Linked DNA regions of Homo sapiens: region 1 is linked to region 2. Evidence: fine-mapped expression QTL. Tissue or cell type: whole blood. Region 2 holds a variant in brackets; the other region holds the start of a gene. All regions are shown on one strand. Distances are between the middles of the regions.

Region 1 (2,681 bases), 400 kb after region 2:
CCTCTGTCATCTGGCAAACTGTTAAAAGAAAATTTTGCTCAAAAGCAAAATAGCAGCTGCTGTTTCTTAACACTTTGTTATGTTTTGATGAGTACTGGTGGGAAGTGGCCTCTTTAAGTGGGTACCTTTTGTGGTCCTCTCACTGGAGCCAATTGCCTGAGTCAGCTAAAACTTGGACGCGATGTGCCTCACTGCCATAGCTCACTCACCTTTGCTGCTGAAATGGTTTCCCATCACATTGCTAATAGGTACAACCTGTGAAGGGTTCTAGGTGGGGAAATGGCAACTCAGGAAGAACTCCAAACCTTTAGCTCTCCTAGGATATTAAAATGGCCGTTATGAAGAGGAAGAAGTACTGTGTCATCTATTGTCCTGGGGACCTGTCAACAGGAACAATAGATAGACATCACCAGGGGTGTATTTCTGTTCAACACAAGGAAAAGTTTCTAATTGGAGCTGTCCAGCATGAAATGGACTAAGCAGTGCATTTTCTTTCTCCGATCCTGACTCCACTGTGACGGGCACTGCAGACTAGAGAGATTGTGTCCTAGTATGAATTTAGGTTGGATAAATGATACTTAGGGATAAAGAGAGGAAAGGAATATCAGAATCTCCAAGAAGCTGATACATTTTGAAAAAATATATAAAATGCCACACTTCAGGTTTTCTTGTGTTTAATTTGAAACGTCCAGTAACATTAAAGAACAGCATTTGATTTGCTTAAACAAAGTAGTAACAGCTGAAGTTCCTTCCAAATCACTTTTCTGATTCTCTAAGAGGCTTGCCTATGCCTTGCAGATCTAGCTTCACCTACAAGACATATTCTGTAAGGATCCAGGTTCAGCAAGGTGTCAGAATGTCCTAAGGGTTTCTGTCCCGGCGCTCTGCCTGTCCCGCTTGTGCACAATGCTTTTGCCTATCCCTGTTTCTGCATAGATTTTAGTCTTCCCACCAGGGACGCAACTGTCAGTTTCCTCCGTCTCTCTCGGTTCTATTCCAATCTGCTCATCTCCCCTCCCGTCCCCGCTTTCCCCAAGGACCTACTGAGATTTCGATCCCACAACTTAGTGGGTCCCATCTCACCCAGGCCCCGCAATCCTCGCCTTCTACTTGTCAGCGTTGTACTACACTCTGAGCAGGCACCCCTGTGCTACTCACGGAAGCGGGACCATTAGGTCGGCCATTCCTCCTCACCCCACGACACGCACCCACTGGGTCGGGCCGCCTCCTTGCAGGGAGTCTCAAGGATGGGCTGGCGTCAGGGAGGGGCCCAGGGGGCGCTTTCCCAACACTGGTCGCAGTCATTGTTGGTATAACGGCTAGAGACGCCCAGTGAGTTAGCATGGAGGGCAGTGGGACCGGAAAAAGACGTGGAAAAGCTGCGAAAACGAGCCTTCGAATCATGGACGCGCGGGCCCAGCTCCTCCTCCGAGTTCCTCATCCGGGGCCGTCACTCACATCCGGGGCCCTCACTCACATCCGGGACCCTCATCCGGGGCTCTCACCCACATCCGGGACCCTCATGCCTGGGCGGAGGAGGGGGGGCCCTCATTCGGGACCCTGCACTCCGTCGCCGGAAGTGCCACCGAGAAGCGCCGGCCTCGGGGCTGTCTACAGCGGCCCGGGAGAGGCTGTGGTGGCCCCGAGCGCGAGTGTGTAGGTGACAGGACAGCGGCCAGGCCCGCCCCTCCCCTCGGTGAGTACCCGGAAGCCGTTTTGGGGTCGCAGCGGGGTGGCAGCTTGTTTTGCCTTCACGGGAGTAGAAGGAGGCGGCGTCCGGCCGCGGCCGACGGTAGTTCGCTTCCCCGAGAGTGCGCGGAGGCCCGGGTGCGAGGAGGGCCTGTTTCTCTTCAGCCCTGGTTCATTCACCTCGCGGACCGAGGGCCCCGCCGTCAGGAGCCGGCGACCGTGCCCTGGTGCGAGCTGGTCTGTATGTCCTCACTGGTCCTTTTGGGACTTTGCCTTGGCCTAAAAGGGAAGTGGGAGGAGGGCAGCGCCGGGCAAGGCCTTCTGAGGACCGAGCTGGGAGCCGGGCAGGGGCCCAGGGCGAGGGTGGTGGGAGGGGGACGGCACCCTCATGCGTCCTTGGGCCTGAAGGACGCCGCTCAAACCTGTTCGAACCGCAGCTCTTACCTGCGTTGCTCTCAGGATTCCGGGAAAAGGCCGGTCTAGCTGGTCTGAGTTAGCGAAGGGCCTGACCCCAAAAGTGGAGTTTTATTCGCCAAGCCCGTGTAGTAAATCGGAGTGGGCTGACGGTGTTACCAAGACATTTCCTAGGGGGCCTGCTGTTTTATTTATTTAAATGAGTTTATTTACGTAAACGCGGGCCTGTCACGGTGGTTCACGCCGTAATCCCCGCACTTTGGGAGGCCGAAGTGGGAGGATCGCTTGAGGCCAGGCGTTCGAGTCCAGCCTGGGCAACATAGCGAGACTCCCATCTCTGCTAAAACAAAATTAAAATAAAATGAGCAATCATAACTAGCATTTTTCTCTGGGCACCAACTTGAGCCTCCAAAGACGATTGTAAATTTTAAATATTTTGTTTTGTTTATTTGAGGTGGGCTGTCACGCTGTCATACAGGCTGGAATGCAGTGGCGCAGTCATAGCTCACTGCAGCCTCTACCTCCCAAGCTCAAGCGATTCTCCTGCCTTGGCCTTTGGAGTAGCTGGAACTACAGGC
Region 2 (2,681 bases):
TTTCTTCTATACATCTGTGTATTCCTGTTAGATTTCCCCTATGAATAGATTAGCTAACTGAATGCCCTATGGATGTGATTCTAAAATTTCTTGTCAGGTAAGAACGCAAGCCATTGTGATTCTTGATCTTTCATATATGACTTCTTTTTACACTCTAGATGTAACTTTTGTTTTTTGATACAGGGTCTCACTGTCACCCAGGCTGGAGTGCAGTGGTGTGATCACAGCTCACTGCAGCCTCGACCTCCTGGACTTAAGCAATCCTCCCACCTCAGCCTCCTGAGTAGCTGAGACTACAGGCAGGTGCTACCACACCTGGCTAATTTTTTTTTGATTTTTTGTAGAGATGGGTCTCCTTATGTTGCCCACACTGGTCTTGAACTCCTGGCCTCCTGAGTAGCTGGGACTACAGGTACATGCCACCACATTTGGCTAATTTTTTACTTTTATAGAGATGAGTCTCCTTATGTTGCCCACGCTGGTCTGGTACTCCTGGCCTCAAGCGATCCTCCCACCTCAGCCTCCCAAAGTGCTGGGATTACAGGAATGAGCCACCACACCCAACTGGATCTTTTTTTTAATCAGTTTTAAATTTTCACAATGATATGCTTTGGCATAAATCAGCTTTCATCCATTTTTCTGGGCTATTCACTGGATCCTTTAAACTGGATCAGTTTTCTTCTGTTTGGGGAAATGGTATTATCTGATAATTTTCTTTCCTCTATGTTTTTTTTCTCCACTTCTAGAACTCCTCTATTCAGATTTCAGACCTCCAGTTCTGGACTTTATATAATTTGATCTTTTCTATTTTTGCAATTTTGCTCTACTTTATGGGAAATATCCTCAATTTCATCTTCCAATTCTGTTTTCATTTGTACTATCTTTTTATTATTATTATTATTTTAGATGGAGTCTCACTCTGTCGCCCAGGCTGGAGTGCAGTGGCACGATCTCGGCTCACTGTAACCTGCACCTCCTGAGTTCAAGCGATTCTCATGCCTCACCCTCCTGAGTAGCTGGGACTGTAGGTGTGCACCACCATGCCCAGCTAATTTTTGTATTTTTAGTAAAGACAGGGCTTCACCAAGTTGGCCAGGCTTGTCTCGAACTCCTGACTTCAAGTGATCCCCAACTCGGCCTCCCAAAGTGCTGGGATTACAGGTGTGAGCTACCACACTCAGCCCAGTTCTACTATCATTTCTAATTTCCAATAATCCTTTTTGTTCTTGGAATGTACATAAACAGCATCTTTTTTTTTTCTTTTGAGAGGGAGTCTAGCTCTGTCACCCAGACTGGAGTGTAGCGGTACAATCTTGGCTTACTGCAACCTCCGCCTCCTGGGTTCAAGCGATTTTCCTGTCTCAGCCTCCCGAGTAGTTGGGACTACAGGTGCACACCACGACGCCCGGCTAACTTGTGTATTTTTAGTAGAGACGGGGTTTCACCATGTTGGTCAGGCTGGTCTTGAACTCCTGACCTTAGGTGATCTGCCCGCCTCAGGCTCCCAAAGCACTGGGATTACATGCGTGAGCCACCATGCCCGACAACATCCTATGTTTTGCTTCATAAAAGCAATGTCATTAGCCAGGCATGGTAG[T/C]GCATGCCTGTAGTCCCAGCTACTTGGGAGGCTGAGGTGGAAGGATTCCTTGAGCCCCAGGAGTTCAAGGCTGTACTGAGCTATGATAGTGCTACTTCACTCCAGCCTGGGTGACACAGGGAGACACTGTCTCAAAAAAAAAAAAAAAAAAAAAAAAAGGAATAAACTTCCAGTTCGCTGCCAGGTGGGGCAGGGGGCAGTTGGTCAGCTTCATGGAATAGGGGGATGTAACAGCTTTTTGTCTTTCCAACTTTACATTATGGAGAACTTCAACCACCCACAGAAAGAATAGAACAGAACTCCCCATGGACCTATCACCAGCCCTGGTAACCATGATCACATTGCCAATTCCACCCCATGTGTGTATCTGTCACTTCCCTCTTCCCGTATTACTTTGAAACAAATTCCAAACATCACATCACTTCATCTATGATCATTCCGATTTCTCTAAAAGGACTTTATTTCTAATTAACATAGCCCCAATATGATGATTAAACCAAAACAGCCAATCATTCTTTATCATCAAACCTCCATTCAATGCTCAAGTTTCCAATTGTCTCATAAATGTCATATGTGTTTTATTTTCTCAATTGTTTGGTGGTATCAGAATACAAATGAGGCCCACTCTGGTTAGTCAATACGTCATTTAAGTCTAAATTTATAAGTTCCCCCCAAGCAATTTTTTAGTTGGAATTTATTAAGAGAAGGAAAGAAGTAGCTTGTCTGCAGGATTTCTCATGGTCTGGAGTCTGCTGCTTGCTTTTCTGAAGTGTAGCTTAGTGTTTCTCCTCTGTTGTTTTTGTTTTTTTTTTTTTTTTTTTTTTTTTGAGACAGTGTCTCGCTCTGTTGCCCAGGTTGGAGTGCAGTGGTACGATCCTGGCTCACTGCAAGCTCCGCCTCCCAGGTTCACGTCATTCTCCTGCCTCAGCCTCCTGAGTAGCTGGGACTACAGGTGCCCGCCACCATGCTAGGCTAATTTTTTTTGTATTTTTAGTAGAGACGGGGTTTCACCGTGTTAGCCAGGATGGTCTCAATCTCCTGACCTCGTGATCCGCCCGCCTCGGCCTCCCAAAGTGCTGGGATT

What was found. PIP is the estimated chance that this variant, and not a neighbour inherited with it, causes the effect.
Region 1: it holds the start of ZNF655, and the variant in region 2 is fine-mapped to the expression of ZNF655 in whole blood (INTERVAL, PIP above 0.99). The same link has a PIP of 0.9 or more in unexposed skin.

What each region holds. Positions count from the first base shown.
Region 1 is chr7:99,557,092-99,559,772 of GRCh38, forward strand. It overlaps ZNF655 (zinc finger protein 655), which reads left to right and starts at 1,551. Exons shown (of 3, transcript NM_138494.3): 1 at 1,551-1,696. It also overlaps a transcript of FAM200A not described here. RefSeq lists enhancers at 1,196-1,325, 1,356-1,625.
Region 2 is chr7:99,157,619-99,160,299 of GRCh38, forward strand. It overlaps a transcript of KPNA7 not described here. Among named protein-coding and RNA genes, the nearest start is that of SMURF1, 15 kb to the left of the region's middle. The variant T/C (reference allele first, on the strand shown) is at 1,598.